Homo sapiens: one gene and its partners. The protein of the gene in region 2 interacts with the protein of the main gene of each other region in a pairwise test. Each region holds a gene or a part of one and is shown on either strand. Other genes may lie near its edges.

What was found.
Region 1: the proteins of SLC10A1 (region 2) and SLC66A2 interact in binary tests that used the Homo sapiens proteins (3 or more experiments, as listed by UniProt).
Region 3: the proteins of SLC10A1 (region 2) and UNC50 interact in binary tests that used the Homo sapiens proteins (3 or more experiments, as listed by UniProt).

What each region holds. Positions count from the first base shown.
Region 1 is NC_000018.10:79,931,018-79,934,676, reverse strand, and holds part of SLC66A2 (solute carrier family 66 member 2), read left to right. Parts: intron 1-654; coding exon 655-708; intron 709-3,659.
Region 2 is NC_000014.9:69,774,905-69,777,726, reverse strand, and holds the end of SLC10A1 (hepatic sodium/bile acid cotransporter), read left to right. Parts: intron 1-1,338; coding exon 1,339-1,445; 3' UTR 1,446-2,311; downstream 2,312-2,822. UniProt on the Homo sapiens protein: As a major transporter of conjugated bile salts from plasma into the hepatocyte, it plays a key role in the enterohepatic circulation of bile salts necessary for the solubilization and absorption of dietary fat and fat-soluble vitamins.
Region 3 is NC_000002.12:98,614,947-98,618,605, reverse strand, and holds the end of UNC50 (protein unc-50 homolog), read right to left. Parts: intron 2,400-3,659; coding exon 2,260-2,399; intron 2,175-2,259; coding exon 2,073-2,174; intron 461-2,072; coding exon of another isoform or gene 439-460; coding exon 302-438; 3' UTR 91-301; downstream 1-90. UniProt on the Homo sapiens protein: Involved in the cell surface expression of neuronal nicotinic receptors. Binds RNA.

The DNA of each region.
Region 1 (3,659 bases), on a different chromosome or scaffold from region 2:
CCAGGACCTTGGCTGCTGTCTTGTCCTGGGGCTGCGCAGATAGGAAGGTTGACTTATAACCTGTCATTGCCAGTGCTGGGCCCTGGAGGGTGCTGGGTCCCTGTCACATTGTCCCTGTGTCTGTGTCTGTGCAGAGGTGCTTGTCAAGTGCATGTGCGGAACCAGCTGTCCTTTTACAGCAGAGTGTACTCTGAAAACAGCTTTATCAGGCAGCCTTCTGAAGAGTTTTGACCTGGGGCAGCTATATTGCAGCCGCAGCTTGCATACAGATGAGTTTCTAGGAAAAGGGAAGCAGGATCTGCCTGGCTGCTTTCCATCAGCACAGCACGCTTGTGACGGGCTCCCATGCTGCCTTTCTCCCGAGAGATTAAATGGAAATGTGGTAACTTTCAATTTTTGGCTCAATTTTTCTCCCATTCTCCCCATTCACTTTTTTATGATATTGGAAGAGGTTAGGTTTGCAGAAAAATAGTTCAGAAAGTGGGTTTTCTAATGCACAAAAACCAAAATCTTGTGATCTTTCTATTCTGGTTTGTTTTTTTTTTTTTAAAGAAATGCAAAAAGTTCTGGGAACACAGCTGTTTACCCATGTTAAAACCAGTATGTTTCTGTCTTTTTCCCCTTTCTGTTTCTGTCTCCCTTTTTAACGTGTAGCTGCAGATAGCAAGGATGAAGAAGTCAAGGTTGCCCCCAGGCGGTCCTTCCTGGGTATGTACCCTGCGCGTGCACTGTCCGCAGCACGTTCCTTTTGCTTCATTCCTGCAGCTGTACTTCCTCCTGTTGTTGCTTCCATCTGTGCATGTGCGTGCGTCATCTTTACCAAGCGTGGCCGAGTCTACAGCAAACTAATCAACTCCTAGCTCTGCTGTTTTCAAGCATGAAGTAGTTACTAGAAGCCTGTCCATGCTCTTCTGTGTGTGGGGAGATGGGGGCGGGAAGGGGAAGCAGGAGGGAGACAGGAAGGGAGGAGAAAAATTTAGATGACAAATTTTGGACTTTGTTAAATTTATTCCAAAGTATTTTATCCTTTTTGATGCTATTGTAAATGGAATTGTTTTCTTAATTTCAGTTCTGCTGCTTCATTGCTACTTTATAGAAATGTAATTGATCATTGCATGTTGATCTTGTATCATGCAATTCTGCTGAACTGGTTTGTTCTAAGAGTTGTTTAGTAGATTCTCTATATATGATTCTGTCATTTGCAAATATAGTTTTAATTCTTCCTTACCAATGTAGTTGCTTTTATTTCTTTTTATTGCTTATCCTGGTTATAGGCGGTGAGAGTGGATGCACCTATCTTATTCTTCATTTTAGTGAGAAAGCATTCCATCTTTCATCACTAAGTAGATGTTAGTTAATGGATTTTCCATAGTTGCCCTTCATTAGGTTAAGGCAGTTCCCTTTTATTCGAGTTTGTTGGGTGTTTTTATAATAAAAGAGTTTGCCAAATGCTTTTCGTGTCTGTTGAGATGATCATGTGGGTTTTATTTTTTATTCTACTATGATGATGTACTACATTGATTGATTTTTGTGTGTTGAACCAACCTTGCATTCTTGGGATAAATCCATGTGGTCATGGTGTCTAACACTTTTTATCTGTTGCTGGATTTTATTTGCTAGTATTGTATTGGGGATTTTTTGTATCTGTATTCGTAAGACATGATGGTCTGTAGTTTTCTTGTGATGACTTTGTCTAGATTTAGTATTAGGATAATACTGGCCTTATAGAATAAGTTGGGAAATGTTCCCCTCCTTTTCTATCTTTTTAGAGTTTGCAAAGGGTTGACACTAATTTCTCTTTAAATATTTTTAGAGTTATCCAGTGAAGCCATCTGGGCTTGGGCTTTTCTTTGTGGGAAGTTTTAAAATTACGAATTCAATCTCTTGTTATAAGTCTATTCAGATTTTTTGTTTCTTTGTAAGTCAGTTTTGGTAGTTTGTATTGGAATTTTTCCATTTCACCCAAGTTATCTAATTTGTTGACATATAATTTTTCTTAGTATTCCCTTATAATCCTTTGTATTTCTGGAAAGTCATTAGTAATGGTTCCTCTTTTATTCCTGACTTTAGTAATTTGATCCCCTCCTTTCCTTTCTTTTTTTGGTCAGTCTAGCTAAAAATTTGTCAATTTTTTGTTCTGGTCAAATAACCAACTTTTTAAAAGGTGTTTCTTTTTCTTTTCTTTCTTTCTTTCTTTCTTTTTTTAACACAACACATCCACATTGCCTATCAGAGAACCAATTTTTGGTTTTGTTCATTTTCTTTATTGTTTTTCTATTCTGTGTTTTATTTCACTCCAATATTCTTTCATTCCTTATGCTTGCTTTGGTTTTAATTTACTCTTTTTCTTAAGGTGGAGGTTAGAACATTGATTTTTTTTCTTTCTTCCTTTTTAATGTAGTTATTGACAGCCATAATTTCTCTCTAAGCAGGTGCTTTACCTGCATCCTATACTTTGGTGTGTTGTGTTTTTGTTTTCATGCACCTAAAAGTATTTTAAAATTTACTCCAAGATTTCTTCTTTGACCCACTTATTAGGAATGTGTTAACTTCCACATATTTGTGAATATCCCAAAATGTCTTCTGTTATCGATTTCAAATTTATTTCCATTATAATTGTAGAATATACTCTGTATTATTCCAGTACTTTTATTTATTTATTTTTAATATTTGGAGACAGAATCTTGCTCTGTTGGCTGTGGTGTGATCTTGGCTCACTGCAACCTCTGCCTCCTGAGTTCAAGCAATTCCTGTGCCTCAGCCTCCCAAGTAGCTGGGACTATAGGTGTGTGCCACCGTCCCTGGCCAATTTTTTTTGTATTTTTTGTAGAGACAGGGTTTTCACCATGTTTACCAGGCTGGTCTCAAACTCCAGAGCTCAGGGCACCCACCCACCACAGCCTCCCAAAGAGCTAGGATTATAGGCATGAGCAACCACGCCCAGCCAGATTCCAGTACTTTTAAATAGAGGCACATCTTATGGCCTAGCATATGATCTGTCCTGGAGAATATTCAATGTGCATTTTGCTGTGGTTGGGTGAAGGTGGAGGGTTGTCTGTTAGGTCAAGTCTATGATTTATTGTTCTTCTGTGTAGTTGTTACGTCCATTACTAAATGTGGGTGTGGAAGTCTGTAACTATTTTTGAATTATCTTTTTCTCTTTTCACTTCTGTCAGTTTTTGTTTGATGTATTTTGGGGCACTGTTGTTTGTTAGGGACGTATATGCATATTTTCTCTTTTGACATCTGTGTCTTCTGACGTTAGTGTCATCACATGCATGTCTCCTGTGGTTGCCATTTGATATATTCTTTCCATTGTTTTACTTTTAACTTTTTTATGTCTTTGAATTTAAAATGAGTCTTCTGTATACATACGATGGATCTTTAAAAAAAATCCATTCTGGCAATTCTGCCCTTTGATTTGATTGTTTATTTCATTCACACTTAATGTTATAATATGTTCAGATTTACATCTGCTACTTTACTTTCTGGTTTCTGTATATCCTATGCCTTTTCCCCTTAGCTGTTGCTCCTTTACAGCTTTCTTTTGTATTAAGTAAATATTTTCTAATGTAACATTTTAATTTCTTTAAATAATGTTTTCTGAATTATTTTCTTAGTAGTTACTTGAAGGCTTACAATATTCATCTTAACTTATC
Region 2 (2,822 bases):
GGGTTAACATAGCATCTCTTCTCTAAAATGCTCAGAGTATTACCTTTCAAAATAAAATTGAACCTCAAGACAGACCAGAGAACAGAGTGCCTTCCTCAAAGTGCACTTTAACACCAATTTTAAAAAAAAAAAAAAAAAAAAAAAAAAACAGGACATTCAAACCCACTTTATAACACATTTCATTATAACTCTCAACATTAGTATATTCTTCCTAAGTACCTACCCAAATCCTTCAACTGTCCCTTCATGTCCATGAATTGAAGTCCCCTTCAAAACCTTTCTAGACCCTAGGGACTGTGATTTACACCCTAGGAGAAATACACAACTTTCCCTATTGGAATTTGTTACATTATACTAGCAAGCAAATGCCGATTCTCTCTCCCTTTGCAATTAGCTAAGATGTAATTAGGTTGCCAAGCAGCCAACACGAAACAAGTACAGGCTGACCATACACTAGAACCATTTTAGAAGCTTTGGTTCAAAGCTACAGTAGAGTTGTGAGAAAGAATCTACTCTGATGCTTATCTGAGAGGAACGCAAGAGATTTGCTGCCCTCTTACAAAAAGTGCACAGAAGTTTCTAGACCAACCAAATTCCCAGATTTGAGGTTTTAGTACCAGAAAGACCTGAAGTGACCTCAAAGGACAATACTCTATGGATCTTTAGCTCTCAAGACTTGAAAAGAACTTTCCTCACAGTGTATCTCAGAAGACCCCAGTGGAAACACTAAATCAAAGCAACGTATTTCTTTGGACCTAATGGCCCCAAGAAGCTATTCTCAGGGGGGAGGAATCTGTCAAGTTTTTATACTTTTCATTCCTGCACCTGATGGGAGAACAACTCTGTATAGAGAACTCTCCCATCTGTATAGAAAGGTGCAGGAATCAAAGCTATCTTCAAATTTGCATCACCGCCTACACCACGGACAAGAAGAGGTAGATCAATTGGGGGTTGGAGGGAAGAACTGGAAACTCTCTTGGTTAGACTTTCTCGAAGATCTTTCCTGCCTGCCTCCTCATTCCCTGAATGCAACACAGACCTTGCATACATAAACTCATCTCCTGTTGTTTTACTGTATAACGAAGTTAGAAGTGAAGTGATGATGAAGACACAATAGTCTAATTCATTAGGACTTTTACTACTAGTACTACCATTAGGGAGACTGAGGGGAAAGTGAGTTTAAAGAGTAAACCATGGGAGAGACGACAGAGATGGAAAATATATACTTAGCACACTCTAGGGCTGAGTTGGTATTTTTGTACTTTCCAGATTAAACAAGCTTCATTGTTCACTCCTCTTGTTCTCTCTCTACACCTGTAACCCTTTTTAACTTTACAGATAAAACAAAAATGATCTACACAGCTGCCACAACTGAAGAAACAATTCCAGGAGCTCTGGGAAATGGCACCTACAAAGGGGAGGACTGCTCCCCTTGCACAGCCTAGCCCTTCCCCTGGTGGCCTGGATTCTGGTCCCAAAGCAATTCTGAAAGCCAGTGTGGTAAACTAGAGAGAGCAGCAAAAACACCAGTCTTGCCTGAGTCTTTCTCCAGCATTTCCAGTACATCTATCAGAATCATCAAGTCTTGGCCGGGAACACAGACAGGGTGTCTACCCAAGAAGCCTCACCTATCCCCAACTTAGAATTTGCTACTTATTTTAAAGACTTGTTCAGTGACTGTAAACTCTATGAAACCAGAAACCGAATCTGCCTCTTGCTGGGATCTCTAAAAGTGTCTGATAAGCATCTTAAAGTCACTCAATTCCTGAACTAATCAATATATATGTTTAACCCATTACTCAAATACCCAAATCCCATTCCAAGTTTTGTGACCCAAAAGAGAAATAAATGCTCACAAGTGCTGTAGAATTAAACTTCAGAAGTTCTAACCTAAAAAGTTCAGATCCTATTCCTTCCCTTTTGACATTATTGGGATGATGCTCCCGAAAAGTCAAATTTGACATCAAGTATGCAAAAGTGAACACAGTAAGATGCAATCAGGCAAAACAAACTCAAAAAATAGCTAATGAAATGAAAAAACTGGGCGAATGCATCATGTTAGTAGAGGAGGAAAACTTTTGACAAGGAAAAACCAGGAAACAAACACATACATTAACACAATGTTACCTCACTAATAATCTCTTTTTTAAGTTCAGTAGGTATTTGGTTTTAACACAAGGCGCCCCCAAAACTGGGTACAGCAAACTACTGCCAAAATGAGTCGTTTCCCAATTCAAAGAAAAATGTTCAAATACCTAGAATTCACAAATTTCAAATTGTCTCTAATAAAATTTAAACATTTTGCATATCATATGTAAATAAGGATCAAGTAAATGATTAACAACTAATATTAACAATTACAAAAAGTCAATCATGCTTATTAGTTACTTGGGATTTTTATCATTTTGTATGGTCAGGTACAAATGAAACCAAGACAATATAGTTTTCGGGTATCAGTTTGGCAAATGTGCAGGACTAACAAGTACTCCCAACACCAAAACGAGAAACACAGATTTGGGTTACTAACATCCTCTTAAAAACGCAGATTTTTGACAAGGCTACCACCTATCATTTTTACTTATTATATCCATATATACCTACCTGTTCAAATTGTTTTCTCTATTATCTAACCAACATCATCTGCTAGGAGACTTGGTTACATACAAGTTATGTAAGAACACATTTGTTTAGCTTTTGAGGAAGACAGGGTTGGCCTCAAACCATTCTTAGAAAGGAATAAAGATGGCCGGATGCAGTAGTTCACACCTGTAATCCCAGCACTTTGGGAGGCCGAGTCGGGCAGATCATGAGGTCAAGTGATT
Region 3 (3,659 bases), on a different chromosome or scaffold from region 2:
TCATATTGTTTTATGTTTATGTTTTCCCCATGCCATTAGCATTTTACATGTAGCTCTTACATTTGCAAATATTAGAGTGAACACACATGCTTTAGTTTAAAAAATATTTATTATAGAAATGTACATTTAATTAGTTTTAAGGAATGTACCTGACCACAGTGTTAATATATATTTCTTCAAATTTGCAAACTTTACACCTTTAAGATATCTACAAAGATGATAGTTTATTTACAAGTTTTACAAGAAATGATCACTTCACAATACTGTTGACACAGTTACGATTGAATCTTCTTCTCACTTTTTATTTCACTCTGTACTTATAGAAAGAACAGAGAGTATGGGTGAAGTTCCATCCCAGTGCCAGGGAAAGCCCGTAGAGCAGAATCAGAGGTGCAAATGGATACAGAAGAATTACTGTATTTTTCAAAAATGGCAATGCTGGAAAAGAAAGGAATCCAAACTGATTTAAAAAAAAAAAAAAATAAATGACTAATAAATGAACATTTTGAAAGACAGCTTACTTCAACATGTGGGGTGGAAGGGAATGCATATTTTGAATCAGTAAGATGATGCTATTTATGCCCAGAACTAGACTACTCTTCCCAACCCCTCTGTGCTGTTTCCTCCTTGTCTAGGGCTGGGAAGAAACCTAGGAGAGGAATTATTTCAGCACAGAGGCTGAGTGGGACATCATACACTGGACCAAGAGAGGTTAACAATGAGGGAGAAATGTCACAAATATTCATGAAAACAGTGGTGAATTTAAACTTGTGACTGCCTCAGAAACCTCTAGGAGTCCAACTTAAAGTACAGAGATGGATGGCGTTATAGGAAAACATCTTTTAGCTATTTGAGATTTTCCAGTGTAAAGCATTATACCCCCACTTTAAGAGGGTGTGAGCTCAACTAGTAGCCCAGGCTTCAGAAAAGAACTGAAACTCTTAAATATAAAAGTCTGGCTCCAAATATTGATGTTTCTTGCTCACTGCTTAGTTAGCGGGACCCTACCCCATGCATCCCGACCTAAGTATTTCTCATATAGGAAGTTCTTAAACAAACTGAGCTGTACTCCAACTATTCTAAGTGGTATAGGTCGTTACCAGGAGTGTTCAAATAACCACTTAGAGAAACCACAGTGCTGCAGTGTTCTCATCACAAAACACTTTCAAAATTCATTAGAAATGACACAAACATCTCCCCTGGACTAGAGAAAGCACTCCCCAAACAAGGCATTACAATGAAGGGGTTAAGTGTTCCCTGACAAACCAGCCAAGGGGGGAGAGAACCGGGGTGGGAATAACTCCGGAGCCAGGCATAGTCAGAGCCATCTGTATTTACAGTTAGGCCCTAATCATCTACAGTAACAGGAAAGGAAGGGGTAAGAAACGTACAGCGCAGTCTCTAGATTTTATTTGGCTTTATTTAATGGGATCATTTCTTAACATAAATGAAAAATAATATATGTTCCTCATTCATATTAAGAAAAATGAACTGACAACAGGATTTAACAGTAAATCTGCAAACATGTCCTGAGGACAATAAATGTTGGGCCCGATCTTCTGTGATTGTCTACAGAACCATACGGTAATCATGAAAACTAAGAATGGGGCAAAAAGTTATGATTCAAAAGGCTTTAGAGAACTTCAGTTCATAGACCTATGTAACAAGATGCTGGGCCCCACCTTTCTTCGCTCTACCCTCCTGCTGGTAACCCACAACCTGAAAGCATGGGAGAAGAGGAGTGAATGGTCTTGGATTCCTGCAAGTCATCTGGAGATAACCAGTATGGTTTAACATGTTTCCTTGAAAGTATAAAATCTGTTATATACCAGCTAGGCCATTTTCTAGCTGCATGACCATGGGTAAGTTGCTTAATCTCTCTGCCTCAGTTTCCTCATTTGAAAACAGAAACAAACCTGTGTAATTGTCATGAAGATTAAATGAGATAATGCACATAAAATACTTAGGATAGTGCCTGTAAGTGTTCCATAAAAGCAGCTGTTTGTACTACTGTTACAACTTTCCCCCTCTTGCTATGTTCTCAACCAAAAACATTTAAAAAAATTACTTACCACTGTATCCCAGGAAAGTTACATAGATATAATAGCCAACTGCAACCAACCATAAGGTATTTCCAACTAAATATCCAATAAATGTGTCTGTCAGGATAACATCTGCCAGAAGAGACGCAGACCATGAGTCCCTTTACCAATGCATGCAATGAAGACTTGGATAATACTCTAATTAACTGCTACTTACGGTTGATGAAAAAAAGCTGGATAAAATGCAAAATGACCAGGAGTGGATAAAAAGCATTGAGATGCACATCAAAAGCATAGCCCCATTCCACATCATAGTCTCTGCTCTGTCGTTTCACTAAATACTTGTTAGAGATGAACCTAAGAGCAAAATTAAAATTTCTTTCATAATAAAATGAATTCTGTAAATGTTTACTGACGACTTTCTATGCGGCAGACATTCTAAATTCTGGAGATATACCAGTAAACAAAACAGACAAAAATCCCTGCCTTCCATCTAGGAAGGAAGGCTGACAATGATACACCTATGTCAGATGGTATTATGGAAAGAGAGAAAGCAGCAGAGAAATGTGGAGAATACAAACTTGAGATGCAATTGTACATATGAGGGTCATAAAGTAACATTTGGGTAAAGACCCAAGGATAGTGATGGTGCCTGGCAGGCCTGAGGAATGGTGAAAAGACCAGTGTCTGAAAGAAAAGGAGCAAGAAATGAAGCCAGAAAAGAAACAGGGTTGGGCCCAACATCAAGTCACACAGGCTCCATGTCTTACGAAGCCTGTGGCCGTTTTACAATCTTTGGCTTTTATTCCTGGTGACGTGAGAAGCCACTGTGGAGTTCTGAGAAAAGTATTTGACTTAAATGCCTTGACAGAGCCTCCCTGGTGGCGGATCTGAGAACAGACTCCAGAGACAAGACTGGCAGCAGAGACCAGTTAGAAGGCTACTGCAAGGAAGAGATGAGCAGAGGGGCTGGTGGCAGTGGAGGTGCTAAGATGTGGCACACACGATACTCTGAAGGTAGAGCTCCTGACATTATTGGATTGGAGTATGAGAAAAAAATACTCAAGGATGACTGAGAGATTTCTGCCTTGAACAAATGGAAGATGGAGCTGCCTTTAATTGAGGTGGGGCTGGCTGTGGGAAGAGTGGTTTTGAGGTGGGAAGGAGTGTGCGGAAGTTTGAATTTGGACCTGTTATGTTGAAGATGCCAACTAGTATGGAGTAAGAAGTTGTATACAATGTCTAGAGTTTAGAAGACAAGTCCAAACTGGAAATATAAACTCATCAGTGTGTAGATGATATTAATATTTAAAGCCACGGGCCTGAATGATGTCACCAAAAAAATGAATGTGGATAATGAACAGGCCCAAGGCCCAAGACCTGGGTCAACCCCCTATTAAAAGGAGGATGAAATAGTAAGAAGCAGTTAGGAAGAGTGACGCATCCAGCCATAAGAACAATTATTCAAGTGTATGTCACTGTTCTACAACATGGCCTACTAGTTTTTCAGTTCAATGATGAATAAAAAGTAAAATATCCAAGTAACAGAAAAGTAAGATCTTCAAAGAACAAAACTTGTATTATAAACATATATTGGAAATTCAATGTATTTTTTAA